Linked DNA regions of Homo sapiens. The protein of the gene in region 2 purifies or fractionates together with the protein of the main gene of each other region. This does not show direct contact. Each region holds a gene or a part of one and is shown on either strand. Other genes may lie near its edges.

Region 1 (10,655 bases), on a different chromosome or scaffold from region 2:
TCAATATTATGGCCTCATTCCTCTGAGGAGCTCAAAGTACTTAACACACTTTAACTAGCTAAAAGGCATTAATTCTCACAGTACCCAAGAAAGAGACCTATTTAAAAATTCAGGTTTCAGTCTATTCTCCAAATAATTGGAATTATAATTAGATGCAGGGGGCTACATATTAATTTCAAGAGAAAGGGAAATAATCGAAGTTATATAGTATAGGCTTGAGATTTAGATTATTTTAATTAACTCTTCAATTAATGACATCCAAGTATATGCATATGCAGAATACGCTCTCTCTAGGAGCATATTCCAAGAGCAATCCAACGTGCTTAGTAATAAATATCTTTTTATGTTGTATTTTTGAAAAGAGCATGTTTTACTCTAGGGCAAGCAAGGAGCTCTATGGAAGGCAGCTGGGCAAGCTAGTTAAAAACACTAGTTGTAATCCTGCCTCTACCACTTACTAACTTTGGAATCTAAACAACTGTCTCACTTTCCACATATGTAAAACAGGGACAATAATAGTATAATATCTATCTCAGTAGGTTATTGTGAAGATTAAATAAGAATCTGTGCAAACAGAACAGTGTTTGGAACACAGCCCTCAGTAAATTTTAATTATTTTTTTATTTTTATTTTTATTATTAATGTCTCCTATGGAATACATTATAAAATATATTCCATAGGAAAAAATTAATAGCTTATTAAAGTCAGTCATCACTATTACTAGGACTTACAGGATATAGTTAAGAGAATTCTAAAAATACACTTTAAATTTCTCTAACTGTATATCAAAAATGGTATTCAATGTTAGTTATAAACCGAAATTCAAGACTAAGGTAGAACTATGACAGTAAGAAAAGGAATACATTTAAATAAATTACACTTGAATAAAATATTCAAGCATAGAGTATTCTGGAGAAAAATACAATAAAACTCACCTCTGAGCACGCCAAATGTCTGATGTTGGTGAACCAGTCGACATGGGCACGACAATGATCAAATGCATGAATAAGCTCGTGTGTGACCACTCTGTTCATATGGGCCTGATTATGGATATTATTCTGGCACAAAACTATCTAGGAGACACCAAAATAAAAGAAGTTCAGTGATTCTAAAATCTCCTTCCATAGACTCGATCTTCTCTCCCACATGACCTCACCTCTCCCCCACAAGCTCACCTGCCTGGAATATCTCTACCCACTCTTCTTCATTGGCCACACATCTACCCATGGGACAAGTCCTAGTCCTAAGTGTACATGCTCCAATTGCCTCGCCCAGTGACTAACTTCTCCCTTCTCCTCTCTCTGGACTACAGCAGTACTTAGATTAAGGACACGTATTCACACACCATCCTTACTGGGCTGATCGTACTAGTCTGTCTCGGACTCCACAGCATTATGGTTAAGAGAGTGGGCTTTGGAATGAAGCACACAGATTCAAATTCCAGCTCCACCCCTTACTAACTCAGTGACCTTAGGCAAGTTTCTTAATCTCTCTGTACCTCAATTTCCTCAACTATAAAAAGGAGATAATTAGGGTAGCTACCTCATAGAACTGTGAGAATTAAATGAGAATATATGTAAAATACTTCTTATCAAGTTTCTGAATGAGCATTGAATGAAAAAGGAATGACCACCACTGTCCTCATTTTACTAGAATGAGGGCAAATGCCAGGGAAAACTCATCAGAAAGACCTTCAGAAAGAAGTGCAAAACACAACAGCACACTGAGCAGGACCCTATAAGAATAAGAAAGACACAAGGGATCCTAATAGTAATAGCTGCCATTGATTGTGTACTACTGCCAGACACTGGGATATGTGCCAGATATTTATATACATTCATTCAACATCCATTGATTCAACTAATACTTATTGAGACCTAATAATAGATTATAATCTACTGATGGAGATAGAAACTAACCAAATATTTACCAAAATGTTTACATACATGCAATGACAGTTGTCATGAAGAAAAACCCAGGTTGTCATGAGCATATACAATGAGGTTGGGTGCAGTGGCTCATGCCTATAATCCCAGTACTTTGAGAGGCTGAGGCAGGCAGATTCCTTGAGCCCAGGAGTTCGGGACCAGCCTGGGCAACAGAGCAAAACCCCATCTCTATAAAAAAATAAAATAAAAATTAGCCAGGCATGGTGGCACATGCCTATAGTCCCAGCTACTTGGAAGGCTGAGGTAGGAGGATCACTTGAGCCCAGGAGGTTGGTGCTGCAGTGAGCCAGGAACACGCCACTGAACTCCAGCCTGGGCAAGAAAGGGAGACCCTGTGTCAAAAAAAAAAAAAAGAAAAAGAAAGAATGCCTGACCTACTCTGGAGGTGGGGGAAGGTTTCTCTGTGGAAGGAATGGTTAAACTGGTATCTAATGGAGGAATAGAAGTGAAATTTGAGGTGTGGAGGGGAAGGGAGTATTCTAGGCAGAGAGAAAAACCTATGCAAAGCGTAGAGGGAGGGTTGACGGAAGAAAATGCTTGAGAAGCTAAAAGGAGAGCCCTAGAGTTGAAGCACAGCGGTGGGGGTGGTAGGCAACAGATACGGCTGGTGAGGTCGGGGGGCCAAATCCCTGAAGACCTTGTCTTTACCCTAAGAGCAATGGGAAGCTCTCAGGATAAAGGGAATGTTGAAACAGAAGACTGCTTTTGTTTTATTTTGCTTTTATCCTTTTAACTATAGTTGGAAGAATAGGCAGGAGATGGCCAAAACTGGATGCAGAGAAATTAGCTGAAGGCTAATATTCTAGGCAAGAGAGAACAGCACTTCAGCTAGAATGGTGGTGGAAGCCAAAAGAGTTATTTAGGAGGTAAATTAGACAAAATATGTTGATAGAATACGGGGAAGGAATCAGGGGTATCAAAGATGATCCATAAATTTCTGGCTTGGCTAATAGGGTCGATGGTAGCACCATCCACTGAGATATGCAAAACTAAAAGACTGGGTTGAGTGGGGAGATGGGGGATGGTAAAAATCATGAATTTGGACTTACACATTTCAAGTCTGAAGTGTCCTTAAGACCCTTAAGTAGGTGGGGAGCAGTGGCTCTCACTTGTAATCCCAGCACTTTGGGAGGCTGAAATGGAAGGATCATTTGAGGCCAGGAGTTTAAGACCAGCCTGGGCAACATAGTGAGACCTCATCTCTACAAAAAATTTTAAAAGTTAGCTGGGTCCAGTGATGCACTCCTGTAGTCCCAACTACTCAGGAGGCTGAGATGGGAGGATTGCTTGAGCCCAGGAGTTCAAGGCTGTAGTGAGCCATGATTGCGCCACTGCACTCCAGCCTAGGCGACAGAGCAAGACCCTGTCCCAAAAAAACTTTTTTTCCTTAAAAATAAAAATAAATAAATAAATAAAAAGATGCTCAAGTAGAGGTGTTAAATGGGCACTTGGATATATGGAATGTGGAGTTCTTAAAAGTGAGCTTTGACCCCAGAAAATTGATGAGACCTCCTTGGCAGAGTAAGAAAAGAAGGGGCTCTATGACCAAGGATTGAGGGACTTTGACATTTAAATGCTAGTAGAGGAAGGTAAGCTAGCAAAGGAGCAACCAGAAGAGTGCTGTATACTAGAAACCAAAGAAAGTGTTTGGCATTAACAGCTGAAGTCAAGTGTATACAAACTATATGACCCAGTAATTCTGCTCTTGAGCATATACCTTAGAGAAACTCTTGCACATGTGCACCAGTAGCGAAGGTCAAAAATATTCATAGCAGCATTGTTCATAATAACAAAGTTGGAAACAATCAATATTAGAGTAAACTATAGTATAAACACACAACGGAATAAATACCATATAACAGGGAAACGAAATAAACCAGAGAGGTACACACAACAACAAGAAAGAATCTCACAAATGCTGAAGGTGGAAAGTAATTGGAGACTATATACTGTACAATTTCATAATACTACAAAATGCTACATAAAATTCAAAGTATAACATGTATAAAGCTCAAAAGCAGGCAACTAAATAACACACTGTTGGATTGTATATGTAGATGGTAAAGCCATTCAGAAAAGCAGGGAATGGTTACCACAAAAGTCAGGATAAGGAAGGGAAAAGGACCTGATTCAAGAGGACCACGAAGGCTTCTGAAGTCCTAGTAATGTTCTTTTTCTCTAGTCTGGGTGGTGGTTACATAGGTGTGCACTTTATTATTACTGAAAGTGTACATATAGATGTTTTACTCTTCTGTATGAATGAGATACTTCATAATAAAAATTTTCATTTAAAAAAATAGGCCAGGCACAGTGGCTCACGCCTGTAATCCTAGCAGTTTGGGAGGCCAAGATGGGTGGATCACCTGAGGTCAGGGGTTCAAGACCAGCCTGGCCAATATGGTGAAACCCTGACTCTACTAAAAATACAAAAATTAGCTGGGCATGGTGGCACATGCCTGCAATCCCAGCTACTCAGGAGGCTGAGGCAGGAGAATCACTTGAACCCAGGAGGCAGAGGTTGCAGTGAGCCCATATTGCACCACTGCATTCCAGCCTGGGTGACAGAGTAAGACTCTGTCTCAAAAATAATAATAATTTAAAAAATAATAATAAAATAAAAGGAGAGGGTGCCCAACTGTGTTCAACACTGCTGAGAATTAGGATGAAAGTTCAAGATGTGCACTCTGTTTAACCCTGGGGGGACCGAGAAGGGAGTGAACTTATCCAGAGCCATTTTGAGAGCTATAGGTATTGTGATTACCAGTTTACAAATGAGGAAACTGAGAAGAAGAAAAATAACTTGCCCAAGCCCCACAGATAATAAGCAAGGAAACTAGGATTTGAACTCAAGTCTGACTCCAAAATCTAGACTTCTCATCCTTGTTCTATATTGCCACTTCACATGATTACTGTAAAAATGCTATAAATAACCTAAATACATACAAAATTATCCAGCAGGAAACAGTTAAGTGTAGTTAAGTATGAATTATACATTCAAGTGGGAAACAGTTACTTATAACACCATCATTTACCCTGATCACATGACATTATCTACCACCTCCAAGACTCTGTCGAAACTCTCTGATGACTTAAAACTAATAATAAAATTTATTGAATGCTTACTATGGGCCAGGCACTAAGATAAGCAACTCTATAAGAGATATCTCATTTAATTCTCATAATCATTCCATAAAATAGATACAATCGTTGCCCAAATTGTACAGATTAGAAAACTCCCCTAATAAAAAATTTTCACAGGCAGTATCAATTCTCACCACGTAAAGGTAAAAACCCTTTAATTTAGCATTCAAAACCTCCCACCATAGGGCTTACATTTCCTTCCAATCCTATTTTCCCTCATTCCCCACATGTTCCTGCCCTCCAGATAAACTAGACAATATGCCATTCCCTACACATGCCATGCAGTTTCGTAGCATGCACTTTTGCTCATGCTGCCCCTGCTCTGTCCCTGCTCTGCCCCTAAGGAGGCTTTATATCCTCTAGTCGAATCTGTTGGCATCTTTCAATCGATCACATCACTGTTCCATTGTGGTAACCAAGCCCACCTAAAATGGTTTAGCTTGCCTCATTTTATAATTATCTGTGTTCATGTCTTATCTTTCCTGTAAGGCTGTAAACTCCTTAAGAGATTTTAAGAGTAAACTCCTTAGAGTAAGGATAACTAATTCACTTTTTTAGTCCTACATAAAGTCTACCAAACAGAATGCCGAGCATGTGGAAGATGCTCAAAAAATATAAAGAGAGAGGATTAAAGGGAAGGAAACAATTTGGCAATAATGCCTACCTGAGATGTTGAAGCATCAAAACCTCCACTGACATTTCCATTACAGTCTTCGCAAGAAAAGTGTCTATCTTTGTTAACAGCACTAAAAGGCAAGAAAAGGAGACAATGTCCAGAAACAGTGTGTATGTGGCAAACAGCCCTGGGCCAGGGCTCAGGAGACCCTCCACCATATAGTAAATCCCCTCTACTACTAACACATAGGAAATCTTGGGAAAGAAACAACATCTTCAGGACTGTTATCTCACCTGTAAAATAAGGAGGTTGTACACAAAATCCATTCTAGTTCAAATTCTATAGATATGATTCCATAAAACATTTGTCCCCCAGGCGCGGTGGCTCACGCCTGTAATCCCAGCACTTTGGGAGGCCGAGGCAGGTGGATCACCTGAGGTCGGGAGTTCAAGACCAGCCTGACCAACATGGAGAACCCCCCATCTCTACTAAAAATACAAAATTAGCCGGGTGGTGGTGGGCGCCTATAATCCCAGCTACTCAGGAGGCTGAGGCAGGAGAATCTCTTGAACCCGGGAGGCGGAGGTTGCGGTGAGCCGAGATCGTGCCACTGCATTCCAGCCTGGGCAAAAAAAAAGAGCAAAACTACGTCTCAAAAAAAAAAAAAAAAAAAAAAAATTTGTTCAACTGATTATGGCCATATTGCAAGTATGCTGGAGTTCCTGCCCTTGGGCCAGAATGTTAAGAAGTGGATGTCAGAAGTCACTTCCTTTAAACCCCTCAAAGTTATACAACATCTGCAAGGTTCCTACATAACAAGCTGAGATTTCTTTTCCATTAAAAACAGTGCTCAGGCTGGTGTAGCAGAAAGGCCAGGCTTGGTAATTACTTACAAGAAAATTTTGAGTACTGTCTTTATTAATCACCCAAGGTGAATGGTAAGAACTAGAAAATGAGCTGGGCTGGCGCAGTGGCTCACACCTGTAATCCCAGCACTTTGGGAGGCCGAGGTGGGTGGATCACTTGAGGACAGGAGTTCGAGACCAGTCTGGTCAACATGCTAAGACCCCATTTCTACTAAAAATACAAAAATTAGCCGGGCATGGTGGCGTGCGCCTGTAAACCCAGCTACTTGGGAGACTGAGGGAGAAGAATTGCTTGAACCTGGGAGACGGAGGTTGCACTGAGCCGAGACAGCACCAACGCACTCCCACCTGGACAACAAGAGCGAGACTCTATCCCCAAAAAAAAAAAAAAACATGAGTTAGGGCAGAAAATGTCCAAAGAGAACAAGGCCAGCCCGGAGACAATGCAGCCAATTACCTCTATTTACCCTATGGAAAAGACTTTGTGACCTCAGAGAAATCTTAAGCAGTTCTCTTAAGAAGAGAACTTGGTTTTTGTTTTCAGCAGCCAGACCTCAGAGCAGCACTTCAAAAAGAGTTACTTACCAACCTGAGTGTTTCATAGCATCAAGCAGAAGTTTGACATATGGATCTAAAAAAGATATTGATTTAATTAAGTAATTGGAAAAGTAGCACCAATTAAACTACCCAAATAGCAGTGTAAGATATTATCAAAAAGTAACTCACAGGCCAGATGCAGTGGCTCATGCCTGTAATCCCAGCACTTTAGGAGGTTGAGGCGGGTGGATCATTTGAGGCCAGGAGTTCAAGCCCAGCCTGACCAACATGGCAAACCCCGTCTCTACTAAAAATACAAAAATTAGCTGGGCATGGTGGCACACGCCTGTAGTCCCAGCTACTTGGGAAGCTGAGGCATGAGAATCACTTGAACCCAGGAGACAGACATTACAGTGAGCTGAGATCACACCACTGCACTCCAGCCTGGACGATAGAGTGACTCTGTCTCAAAAAAAAAGTAATGTTATCTTAAAATTGGTAAAAATTGACATGAGAGGCCAAGCTTAAATCAACATCAAAGCAAGTTTGTACTGAAATAAAACACTAATACAAATACCAAGATGGTACTACTAAGCATCTTAGACAATATCAACTATGCTTTTAAAGTTCATTTTTAGTTAAATGATCAAACACGTTGTATTACGGTATATACCAAAAGACTGAGGGAATCTAGGGCCACATTCTTAGAAGTGAACAACAGCACAGTACCTAGATTTGAGGAAGCCAGTAGCCACACTGTTCTGTCCTGATCAGATCATACCGGCAATACCATGTCCCATGCTGAGTACTACCACCTTCTAAATTGGACCTGCCACTGAAGCTCTTCCACAGGGGATGGTGACTAGGGTACTACAGACTATTTCCAGTAAGAAGCAAGAAAGGATTTGGGGGGTTGGAAAGGAGACAGAAGACTTAACTAGGACCACACTACTTTCAAGTATTGAAGGGGTGCCATGTGGGACTAGATTCAGTTAATATTTCTTCAAAGGGCAGAACAAGGACCAAAGTATGGAAGTTACATGTGGCAGATTTCAGCTCAGTATGAGAAAGGATTTTTCTCCAACAATTAAAGCTGGTGAAACAATAGACAGTAGATTGAAAGAGCCTCAAGGAACAGGTAACTGTATTCCAGGAGAGGTCTGTAGAGTATCTGGCCAGCAATAGCACAGAGGTTTCCCTGTAAGGGGACGGGGAGGCCTAGACGATTCCTGAGGGCCCTTCCACATCTAAGACTCTATGGGCCCGTGACTACTACAGGAAAGTACAAGGAGCCCAAATGCCTCTGATATTAACTTTTCACATAGGCATCTTGTCTGAGAATATAAATGCACAGCCAATTATATGATGTAACCCAAAAAAAGTGAAAAAGAAACTAAGGTTTAAAAAAAATGTTGAAGGCAAAAATAGGTGAGAAAAAGAAATGTGAGATGAGAAAGTCAGGTATAGGTTACTGCTTTACCAACCTGCCCCTTGCAAGAGTGTTCACAGTAGAATAATTATTGTTAACAATACGTATTATTGAGTGAATACCAGGTAGCAGGCACCATATTAAGCACATTATTATTCATGCAACTAGGAGAATTTTACAAAATTAAAACAGTTTCAAAAGTCTGTAGTCCTTGTACTTAAAAAAAAAAAAAACCATGGTTTAGTACTTCAAAAAGGACCTGCAGCAATATTTAGAATAAAATTGCTTTGGTGAAAAAAAAAAAAAAAAAAGAGACTCCCATGAGGTCTGGTTTCCACCACCACGCCCCACCCAGGGATAGCATTTTAAAGCTGCAGGTTGACACTTTAATACCACCAAAAGACCCTCCCAGCCACCCTGCCCTTGGAAGATCAAGGTCCATTGATTCCTACTGGGGCTCATGTTCAGCACCCCACCTTCCTCACATCCTATCTATTTCCACTCTTCCTCCACTGTGTGGCCCTTCCACTGTAAAAACAGCTACCATTTATTCAGCTCAGCTCCTGATATGCTGGTACTTTACATTCATAAAATCAGTACTTTTTTTTTTTTTAGACAGGGTCTCGCTCTGTTGCCCAGGCTGGAGTGCAGTGATGCAATAACAGCTCACTGCAGCCTCAGCCTCCTGGGTTCAAGCAAATCTCCTGCCTCAGCCTCCTAAATAGTTGGGACTGCAGGCATGAGCCACCACATCCAGCTAATTTTTTTTATTTTTTGTAGAGACAGGGTCTCCCTATATTACCCAGGCTGGTCTTAAACATCTGAGCTCAAGCAATCCCCCTGCCTTGGCTCCCCAAAGTGCTGAGATTACAGGCATGAGCCACCGTACCCAGCCCCATAAAATCTATTCTTCACAACAACCCTAAAAAAGGTATTTTCCCCTTCTCTTTTTTTACAATAAGGATAGTGAGGATCAGAGAAGTTAAGTCACCTTCCACACCTGAGGAAAGGGATCCGCATTTGAACCCACATCTAACTCTGCAACCCATACTCTTTCCACTCTATTCCACTTTGAAGCACCTTCAAGGCAGGGTGCTAACTCATCTTTCTACTTCCCCCACCAGAACCTGGGAGGCACTCAATACATATTTGTACAGTAAATACAATATCATCATTCTCTCCCCTTTTACCCTCAACTCCCCTTCCTCCTCCTACCTCCCTGAGTCTCTACAAGCAGGTAATCCCAAGAAGGTTGGAAAATCTTTCGGTGGTTGACTTTTGAACTGTGACTGACTAGCTATGAAATAGTAACCTTGCTTTGGGACAAGTATGTTTAAGACTAATTTTCTGAATGTATCTGAAAGTAAACTTAAGAAGTCTATGTCAATGTAAAGGAATTAAGAAATCTTCTCTAGTGCAATGTCTCTGGGACGGGAGAGAAATTTGTCAATGGGCAGTTGTGTCCCTGTTTAACCCACAGCAGTTCTTAACCTTTGTGGGGTCGTTGGCCTCTTTGAGAATATGATGAAGCTATTAACTCTCTCCCCCGACCAAAAAAAAATACACTTTGGGCCGGGCGCAGTGACTCACGCCTGTAATCCCAGCACTTTGGGAGGCCGAGGCAGGCAGATCACGAGGTCAGGAGATCAAGACCATCCTGGCTAACACGGTGAAAACCCGTCTCTACTAAAAATACAAAAAATTAGCAGGGTGTGGTGGCGAGCGCCTGTAGTCCCAGCTACTCGGGAGGCTGAGGCAGGAGAACGGCGTGAACCCAGTAGGCGGAGCTTGCAGTGAGCAAAGATCGCGCCACTGCACCCCAGCCTGGGCGACAGAGCGAGACTCCGTCTCAAAAAAAAAAAAAAAATGCACTTAGGGGCACACACACACACATACACACGATTTCACAGACCATTTCAGGGATTTCTACGCTCTGAAGCCCATTCATGCATGAACCACTTCCAAGGAACGGTAGGTTTGCAAAACTGCTTTTATATTTTTACAGCCTTGGTATGCCTTAATTACATTTTTACATTTTTACAGCCTTTGTGTGCCTTAATTAACCTGGCTGGCACTTTAAAACTTGGCCTCACCCTTACCCTGAAGTCACAGTGTGG
Region 2 (10,936 bases):
ATTAGTTTAAGTCAAGAATAATCACAGCTGGGCATGGTGACTCACGCCTGCAATCCTAGCACTTTGGGAGGCCAAGGCAGGAGGATCACTTGAGCTCAGGAGTTCAAGACCAGCCTGGGCAACACACTGAGATCTCATCTTTTTTATTTAAAAAAAAAAAAAAATTAAAGAATCATCATTAAATATCCCCCTAATATAAAGCCAACTTAGAGAACTGAAACCTCACAATTGATACAAAATAAATCCTCACAATCTATAGAGTAGATATTATTTCCCTTATGAAGATGAGTGAGCTATATAATTCTAATTTCAGAGCAAAATAGCAGAATAAGGAAAACAATGGGCTATGGAGTCAAAGATGTGGGTTCAAGTTCTCTCAGTAAAAGGGAATAAGCATAGCTAGCATCCACTAACAGAGCTTTTGTTAGAATTATAGCAAGTATAGCTTGACCTGGTACCTGATACACAGGTGCTCAATAAATACGAATTATTATTTTCTACAAATATTTTATAATAGCAAAAACTGAGTAAAGTATAAATGTAGAATTTGCAATCTCTGCTTATGAAAATAATTTTCAACTAGGTGACAAGCCTGAGTGTGACTCATTGCACTCAGAAGGGTCAAATGTTTGCTATGTTATTTGTATGGTTTTTTATTAACTATTACTTAACTTCTAGATGGCCTTAACAATCTGTTTCTTAATATCCGAAAGCTGCCAACTATTTAGTCTTCCTCTTATTTCCCATTATATTAGGCCTAGATATTAACAATACAAGTGTATAAAAGACAAAAAAAAAAACAAATTCAATAAATGGATAAAGCAAATGCTAAAACAAGGTGTGAAAAACTCTAATTACATTGTAATTATTTTATAAAGTGCTAGTTACTATGTTACATGGCACTGTAGAAATATTTCGTAAGAAGATCCACTAAAATCAAACCAAAAGTCTAAACAAAAGCATATTCTTAACAGATATTCAGAATACCATATTAAACGCAAAGTTTTTGGTAACATTCACTACATTCACTCCCCCTCCCTAAAAGAAAAAAAAATTATAGCAAAATAAAGTAAGAATTGGCTTAAGAAAAGTTCTGATGTATCTGGATACATACAGACACAGTAGAAGGCGCAAGCCTCTAATCCCAGGATTTTGGGAGGCCGAGGCAGGTGGATCGCTCGAGCTCAGTTCGAGACCAGTCTGGACAAAATGGCGAAACCTTGTCTCTACCAAAAATACAATAAGTAGCTGGGAGTGGCGGCACACTGTGGTCCCAGCCCCTGGGAGGCTGAGGTGGGAGGATTGCTTGAGCCCGGAGGGGGAGGTTGCAGTGAGCTGAGACTGCACGACTGCACTCCAGCCCAGGTGACACGGCTGTGTCAAAAAAGAGGAAGGGAGGGAGGGAGAGAGGGAAGAAGGAAGGAAAAGAAAAAAGAAAGCACCAGACAGGAAGGAGGGCACAATGGGCTCTTAATCAGGACTGTCACCAACCACCCCTCAGGCTAAATTTCACTTAAAGCAAACTTAAGGAAAAGATGCTGCATGTCCTCAATTCCATTTCATATTCTGTGCTCCCAAAAGATACGTACTCAGCTAGCAGTTTGTTGAAGTCAACCCTTAGTTTTACTACACCAGTGGGCACCTGGAATATCTGCAAAATGTGGACTTAAACATTAATACTGGCTAATGTCAGATTTCTGGCAAGGCAATATACAGGGATTGGTTTACTCACATTTGTAACCCCAATAAATATGCACTCCAAAATGTTTTTGTTGAATAGAAAAATTTGGAACTGGAAATGAAGAGTTTTTGATCTCTAAAATACATTAAAAATAAATACCAAGACGACATCTATATATAAATTTTAATGCAGAGTATCTGCATTATTGACATTATGCATTTAGTTTTTTTATGACAGACTAAAGTAGTTCAAGTTACTCTATTCTCAAAAAGAACTTATTTTACACCAAACATGGCAAGCATTACATACCCTTCAAATCTAAAGACTCTTTCCACACCATATATATTACATTTGCTCTCTTTTCCAAGCTCAGAAAGTTATAACCTAACTTTTCAGGTAAGTCTCTATGACAGTAAGACGGTTTATTTTCCGTTCTAAAATTTTCGACGATTCTCACAAGTCGCAAAACTCAGCAGGAAAAAAAGAAATCCGCGTGCTGTTAAAGTGGTAGATTTTTTTCAAAGACGACATATTTCAACGAGGCTCCGCAATGAATAATGGGAATGAATCTTTAAAAAAATTCAGATCGTGACTTACTAGAGAAAAATACCTCCTACAATACTTAAGAGTCACTTTCCCCAAATAAAGGCGGGAAATATCGTGCGAACTCCTAGCTTGCTGTTAAGGTCAATATCTCAATGATTACCAACCACACGGTTGATTAAATGTTGCACGATTCAAGCTTCCATTAATAACAAGATTCCTTTGGCAAAGCCCGGGAGAGAGGAGTCAAAACAGGAACTGGAAGCACCGGTGATCAAGAAGCAGTGGACTGCACCCACACACTTCAGGGCACCGCCCACCCACGTGTACCGCGGTCAGTTCCTCCCAGGGATGCTTCTGGGGACCAGCAACCAGCTGGGAATCCAGCAACCAGCATCGCGTCTCGGGTATCAGAAGGAGGTTAAGGTATGGGCCAGTCTAACGTGGCTGGCGTGTGGGGGCACAAACACAGCTCAGTCACCGCCAGACGGCCTTTTCTTCACCCTCCCAGGGCCCTCAGCTTCCCGGCGCCACCTTTGTAGCAGTATGGAGGCGACGCGTCGAGTAGGGGACCGACTATGAACTTGGGGGCACCCAAGGATTCCCTCTCCGCGACTGAAACCAGCAGACGAGAGCCTGACGACTGCCTTTCAGTCTTGCCCGCCTCCAGGCCCAGAGCATGGATGGCAGTGCCAGCAAGGAAAAGCAATATTTCACTCACCTAACGCGGGCCCCTGAGGTTCCACTGCAAAGGCTGCCATTGCGTCGGCAACTACACTTAAAACCAGTACCTTCCCAATTAATTTTCAAAAATGGCGGAAACGCTCCCCACGGGTAACGGCGTGCTACCTTATGGGGTTGCGTAACTTCCGGACCTGCGCTATGCTTAAGTTGTAGGCGCCGGAGCCATTTTGGAATAGGGCAAAGTCTTTGCGCTGAGAATTTCCGAGGAAAGGGTTTTTGCACCGGGAAGGTGGCGAACCAGCGTATGGTTCTGTGAATGCTTTTCATCCGGGAATGCTTCCTGATTTGTGGGTACTTAAGTTACATAGAAGCACAGATTATTTTACTCACGGTTTCATAATTAGCGTGAGTTGACCCAGTGCTCTATCATCGGTCAGCTTTTCTGAGTAGCACCTGGAAAAGTCAGCTTGATGAAAACAGTTGGTGCCTCTTTGCAATGTCGATTTCTGGACTTAGTACATGACGCTTTTTCCTCAAAGCATGTTTTCTACTATCCGTATGCCATTTCTTTTAAATTTTGTGTTATGTAGACAATTTTACATTAAAGCGTAACTCATACGCCGTTTTGTTGCATATTAAAACATACAAAAATATAGCTAACGAACGCATAAAGTACACATGTAAATAATGGAAGATAATTATACGCACCCACGAACCCTCCACACCGCGGAATCTTGCGTGCTTCTGCATGTGCCATCCCTGCCGTCCACGTCCCCTCACTTTGCTGCTTTTCTTTAGGGCATAGTCATACGTAAATCACATACACATATTCTGCATATGTGTGTGTAAAAATATATTGTTTAGTTTTGCTCAAATACTAACTTTATAAAATAATGTGCTACATATGTATAACTGGGGACGTTCTCTGCTCCATACCATGAGGATTATTTCCAAAATATCCACCCATGCTCAGCTATTTCTTCTAGGACTTCCTAAAATCTCAAATGGAGGAAGAATTTTGTCTTTGGAATGAGGCAGTAACAATTCCAGAATTAAATGGTAGGTTCACAGAAATCAAATTTTAAAACCACTCACAGATCGAATTGACTTTTTGAAAATGGGTGTGTGAATTGAATTGTGTCCCTCAAAAATTTATGTTCAAGTCCTAACCCTCATACTTATGAATATGACCTTATTTGGAAATCGGGTCTTTGCAGATGTAATAAAGTTCAGATAAAGTCACATTGGAGTACCACAAGCTCGGTTAACTAAACCAGCACAAATGTATCTCTTACAGTTCTGGAGGCCAAAAATCCAAAATGAGTATTGTAGGGCTAAAATCAAAGTACCAGAAGGACTATTTTCTTCTGGAGGCTCCAGGGGAGAATCTATTACCTTGCTTTTTCAAGCTTCTAGAAGCCACTTATATTTCTTAGCTTGTGCCACCTTCCTGCTTTTTCAAAGCCAACGATGTAGCATCTTTGGTCTGTCTGACACTGCTTTGTTCAGCTTCTGCCATCACATAGCCTTGTGATGACATTTAGGACCCACCCAGGTAATCCAGGATAATCTTACTATTTCAATATTCAGTAGAGGTGATTAAGTTAATAATCACATCTTCAAAATACCTTTTGCCATATAAGGTAACATTCACAGATTCTAAAGCTTAGTGTATGGATATCTTTGGGGAGTAGTCAGCCCACAACACAGGGCAATCCACTTTTTAGAATTAAGCTACCAAGAAAGGTATATCAATGTATAAATTTCTACACACATTGAGGCTAGATGTGGTGGCTCACACCTGCAATCCCAGCACCTTGGGAGGCTGAGGGGTTGATCACTTGAGTCCAGGAGTTTGAGATAGTGAGACCCCACTTCTCTACAAAATAAAAAAGAAATTTCTATACAAATTATGATCTAGCCAAACAAAAGAACACTATACAACAACTAAAATGAATTAGATGGATTTGATATGAGTGTAAATATTAACCTAGAAAGACCTCTGTGATAGATATAATGAAAAAAAGTAATTTGAAAACATGCATGCATATACGGCACCATTTTTATTTAATAACGGGTTTATTTAGGAACAGATGCAGAGAAAGAGAAAAGAGTGATACTTCTTTAAATAAAAGAAGATGTTGAAAAAGATTTGCACCAGCCGGGCATGGTGGCTCATGCCTGTAATCCCAGCACTTTGGGAGGCCAAGGCGGGCGGATCACGAGGTCAGGAGTTCCAGACCAGCCTGGCCAACATGGTGAAACCCCATCTCTACTAAAAAATACAAAAATTATCCGGGCATGGTGGCACATGCCTGTAATCCCAGCTACTTGGGAGGCTGAGGCAGGAGAATCGCTTGAACCCAGGAGGTGGAGGTTGCAGTGAGCCAAGACCATGCCACTGCACTCCAGCCTGGCGACAGAGCGAGACTCTGTGTCCAAAAAAAAAAAAGAAAAGAAAAAGAAAAAGATTTGCACCAAACTATTAACAGTAAAGTAGAAAAGGGTTTGTAAATTGGAGGATTTAAGAATGGCCTTTACACATGTATACATATGTAACAAACCTGCACGTTGTGCACATGTACCCTAGAACTTAAAGTATAATAATAATAATAATAAAAAGAATGGCCTTTAACTTATTTTATACAATTTTGTGGTTGATGACAGGTGTTATTGCTATTTTATTTATTTATTTATTTATTTTGAGATGTAGTCTCGCTCTGTCACCAGGCTGGAGTGCAGTGACACGATCTCAGCTCTGGCACTCCACTGCAACCTCCACTGATTCCCCTGCCTCAGTCTCCCGAGTAGCTGGGAGTACAGGCGCATGCCACCACACCCAACTCATTTTTTTTTTTGAATTTTAGTACAGACAGGGTTTTACCATGTTGGCCAGGATGGTCTCGATCTCCTGACCTCATGATCCACCTGCCTCAGCCTCCCAAAGAGCTGGGATTACAGGTGTGAGCCACCGCGCCCAGCCCTATTTTCTTTACTTTTTAAATTAAAAACTTTTTTCCATTAAGACATTTATTTTCTTTTCTTTACCTGCATTTCAATCTTTTACCCTTTCAACAGGCTCTTTCCTTACCAAGCTATAAAGAAGCCCAGAATTGAAACCCTCCCTAGGCCTTGCTCCTCCACCTACCTACCATGTGCTAATTTCTCTCTCATTTCATTTTTTCAAAATCTCAAAAGAAGTGTCTATAGATTTTAGTAAATTATCTGTTTCCCTATCTTTACTATTTTGATTTTTAATTAATTGCAGATTGGCTCCTGTGTAATGCTCTTCCGAAATAAAACTACTGACCCCAACTATTTTTTTTTTCTAATTGCCAAATTAGACCTGCCTCCTTGACATCTGCAGTATCCAACAGCTTTGACAATCTTTTCCTAAGTACAAGTGTTTTCTTTATTTTTGGTGATGCTACACTTCCTATTTCTCATAACTTCCTACTCCTTTTCTGGTTTTTCAATAATTGATCCCATTTTTTTTCTAACCTGGGAATATTATTGATGTTCAAGCCTTTGCTCTCTCCTTTCTTTTTCAACTCTTAGTGGTCTCCCTTGGAATCCTTATCATTGTCACCCTGTGCAAATAATTTTTAATAATCTATACCCAACATCTCTAAAGCCAAATGCCACTTTTCCAGATGCTTGCTGCACAACCTACCCGTACATCAAACCTCAAAAGCAAGCTCATCTTTTGTCTTTTTCTTTCCATCTCTTAGAAACTCAAAATTGAATTCATAGTGCATTAGCAGAATTTAGAGTCAGACGAACCTCAATTCAGAGCCCAACTCTCTCACTAAAACCTATATAACTTGGATTTGTATTTGATTTCTAGATTATATTGTTTGTAAAATAGAAACAATACCTACTTTGAAAAATGGTTATTCTTAGTACAGTGTCTGCTCCACTTTGTTTTTTCTGACATTCACCTTCTCTACCATCAAACATTGAGATATTCTTTCTGCCTCTTCAATTCCTATACAATTGCAGTCAACTCCTTACATCTCCCTGCCTTCAGTTTCTCCCACCAAGCCTAACACACCAGTAGCCAAAACTTTCTTTTTTTTTTTTTTTTTTGAGACGGAGTCTCACTCTGTCATCCAGGCTGGAGTACAGTGGAGCGATCTCAGGTTACTGCAACATCTGCCTCCCGTGTTCAAGAAATTCTCCTGCCTCAGGCTCCCGAGTAGCTGGGATTACAGGTGTACACCGCCACACCCGGCTACTTTTTGTATTTTTAGTAGAGACAGGGTTTTGCCATGTTGGCCAGGCTGGTCTCGAACTCCTGACCTCAAGTGATCTGTCAGATTTGGCCTCCCAAAGTGTTGGGATTACAGGCATGAGCCACCGTGCCTGGCCCAAAGCTTTCTTCTTCATACACATTACCCAGCTGTCTGAAAACACTCACTGAGTTCCTATTTTCTACAGAAGCCTCCTTTTCTTCAGCCTCCACAAGACTCAGGTGTGCAGCACATGTCATTTAGTAACATCCTTCATTATACTATATACATTGTCACCTGGACAGCAAAGAAGGAAAAAATCAGAATCTCTCATGGTGGGAGGGTAGAAGCATCTCTTTAAGAGACTTCCATAGGAACCCCTAAAGGCAATACACATTGTTACCCTACTTTCACCCTGGGGTAACTGAGATCCTTGGCTTCAAAAATAAAATCCCAGGGTGGGGTGGCATGTACCTTTTAGTCCCAGCTACTCAGGAGGCTGAGGCGGGAGGATCACTTGACCCCAGGAGTTCCATGCTGCAGTGAGCCATGATCCTGTTACTGAACTCCAGCCTAGGCCACAGAGCTGGACCCTGTTCCCTGCCCACCCCCCTCCAAAAAGAAAAATTTCCTTCACCTCCTCATCCTAACCTTTTGCTCCAATCAATTCTCTCATTATTCCCTGTTGAAAACCCTCATTCTCTTGTGAACAGCTCTTCACATTGTATTTCTTGCTCACATCAACCCTCTGCCTAGCATCCCTTAGCTTTCCACCCCAATTTGCAAAGTCTTGTGTTTCTTTCAAGTAGCAGCTCAAGCCTCTTTCTGTCATGTAAACCTGCCCCAGCCATGCCAACTCTGATTCGTCTTATCTCTTCACCTCACTTTGCTGTAAGATACTTGTTTTGTAAGTTTTCTTTTCAGCCCCACTAGATGGATTTTCTTGAGGCCAGGGACCATAACTTTTCCTATTTTGTATTTCCATTATTTTTCAATTAAATGTATGTTGAAAAATAAATGGTTACAGTAGGTAGCTATTCAGGCATAAACAGAGCAAGAGAAGGTGCCCCCTACCCCAACCAGGAATGTCAGGCGGTTGTTAAACTCTCTCTCTAAAATAATTGATTGCAGCCAGTGCCAGGAAAAGGCAGTTTCCCAGTAGATAGAAACACCTAAAACTGGTGATCGGCAGCTTCCCGATAAGATCCAAGGAGTTGGGAAAGTGGGCTCAAGCATGCATATTAAGAGGCAAAATGGAGGAGTTTAACTGGTATCTGACCTCCTAAGGACATTCAGCTGGTAAGGGAAGAACACTTCCAGTGAGCATGCGTACAACTCCAGTAAACACATTGCGCATGCTTACCTCCAAAGTGCTAACAGGCCTCTCACTCCAAGGGAGGAATCAAGGGAAAAGGGATGCAAGATGCCAGAAGTATGCCAACATGTAAAACCCTACGTCCAAGGTCAAATGGGGCACTTGTCCTCCAAGATGCCCGCTTGGCCCTCTTCCAAGTGTACTTTACTTTCTTTTCATTCCTCCTCTCAAGTTTTTCAACAAACCTTCACTCCTGCTCTAAAACTTGTCTTGGTCTCTTCTGCCTTATGCCCCTTAGTCAGATTCTCTCCTGAGGACACAAGAATTGTTGTTGCAGACCCGTATGGATTTGCCGCTGACAACATATTTTGGTGCTGTGTAATTTGGATTCCCACCACTGACAACAAAATGATTAAACATTAATTACAAGCTGTAAATAAACATTAAACAAAGGATAATTATCTGACATAACTTATTTAATGCAATTTTGCATGTTTGCCAATTTTAAAAATCATAACTGCACATTAGTTATATTAAGTGCTTATTATAAAATGAAGACCTGTTTATAGTTCTAATTACCCTTTTTTGTGTAAAATGAGATCTTCAAAATGTGGATTATCTTGAATGAGAAACATTTGTACTTTTTTTATTTCTTGTTAAACTGCAATTTTAGAAATACTGCATGTTCACTATATTCCTCTGTAGATGAATATTATCTTGATTACAATACTTTTTTCTCTACCTTCTATTCTGAACGCACTAAATAAACTGTCAAATGGAACCTGTTTCCTATTTCTGTTCTGAATTCCTTCCTCCCAGGACATCAGATTTCATCATAGTGCTATTTTTGTAGACCATTGATTATCAAACTTAGGTGGGGAGCCCTTTCTTCAACAAAGGATGGTGCAGATGCTTAATAAATACAACTGCCCAGTTGGGAGGGGAGGAACAGAAAGAGTACAAGGGTTCTTGCCCCCTAAACTGCCAAGTATCGCAACTCCAGGTGACTCTTGAAATACTTGGTTTGGAGTACCTAGGGCTACAGAGAGCTCAACCTGAAAATTAGCTCTGAGCTATATTTCAACTTTCTTCTAAACTCAAATTTTGAAAAAGTCAGAAATATGTAAAATCTCACATTTTAAAAATTTTTCAATAAGTTTAATATATCCACACCAAACTGCTTGTATATCTATCATATATACTGAATATTCATCAACCTATTTATAAGTGTCCAACAATATGCAGTGTTTGTATATAAATACAAAATCAACTTGTTACTCTTAAAAGCCCACTCTCAGTCTATTCTATAAAACAAAAACAAATAATTTTTTAAAATTGAAGTGAAGAAAAAAGATTTCCACCTTTAGTAAGACTTTAGAAAAAAGATGGAGTTTGTCATCTTCAGAAAGAGAGCAAGGGGAGAGAGCATCTTATCACTCATGCTCTCACCGTCTCAGCCTTCAGCACCTGGTGTAGCATGGGCTACCCCTCACTTAATGATGTCACATAAAGCACACAGAGGAACCATGACTTCCTGGATACCAAGGACAAGTGATCTCCAAAGACCCTTTGTGATGTTTACAATGTAGAGATCTGGCTGGGCATGGTGACTCACGCCTGTGATCCCAGCACTTTGGGAGGCTGAAGCAGGAGGATTGCTTGAGCTCAGGAGTTTAACATCAGCCTGGGCCACACAGTGAGACCTCGTCTTTAAAAAAATCAGACATCATCTTTAAAAAAATACAAATTTGGCTGGGCACAGTGGCTCATGCCTGTAATCCCAGAAATTTGGGAGGCCGAAGCGGGTGGATCACCGGAGGTCAGGAGTTCGAGACCAGCCTGGCCAACATGTTGAAACCCCGTCTCTACTAAAAAAGTACAAAAATTAGCTGGGTGTGGTGGCAGGCACCTGTAATGCCAGCTACTCGGGAGGCTGAGGCAAGAGAATCGCTTGAACCCAGCAGGTGGAGGTTGCAGTGAGTCAAGATCATGCAATTGCACTCCAGCCTGGGCAACAGGAGTGAAACTCTGTCTCAAAAAAAAAAAATACAAATTTACTCTTGTTATTTGCATTATCTGACCTCTATAAACAATCATGACCAAAGCCATGTCTTTATACATTTAAAAATAAAATATTACATGTGAAAATGCATGAAGTTTTTCTGATCATTTTACTATAGTAAACAACTGGCAGAAAGGAAGTAGCTAAACTTCAAAAGAAACATCAGTTTACTTCATTCACCTGTTGTCGTTAAATCAATTAAATGATTCCTTTCACCTGCAGGAAGTGAAAAAACTAACTTTAAAACTTACATAACTTTCAGGTGTAATTTTATTTCCTGCTCTTCTATTTGAACTATCAGGTAGTTTGATCAGATGTTTAAAAGAGGAAGTTCATAGCAGGCAAAATTGACAACTTTGAATAAAAAATGCTATGGATTTTAGGAAGAGCTATATCAAGGATTTGCCTTGAAATAATTT

The links.
Region 1: the proteins of NUP35 (region 2) and ATP23 purify together in Homo sapiens (affinity purification with mass spectrometry; 3 studies listed by BioGRID and IntAct, with this or other methods). This does not show direct contact.

The regions. Positions count from the first base shown.
Region 1 is NC_000012.12:57,942,176-57,952,830, reverse strand, and holds part of ATP23 (mitochondrial inner membrane protease ATP23 homolog), read right to left. Parts: intron 7,204-10,655; coding exon 7,158-7,203; intron 6,106-7,157; exon of another isoform or gene 6,071-6,105; coding exon of another isoform or gene 6,000-6,070; intron 5,837-5,999; coding exon 5,755-5,836; intron 2,118-5,754; exon of another isoform or gene 1,947-2,117; intron 1,074-1,946; coding exon 936-1,073; intron 1-935.
Region 2 is NC_000002.12:183,116,507-183,127,442, reverse strand, and holds the start of NUP35 (nucleoporin NUP35), read right to left. Parts: upstream 3,001-10,936; 5' UTR 2,986-3,000; coding exon 2,946-2,985; exon of another isoform or gene 2,736-2,945; intron 2,651-2,735; exon of another isoform or gene 2,486-2,650; intron 1-2,485. UniProt on the Homo sapiens protein: Functions as a component of the nuclear pore complex (NPC).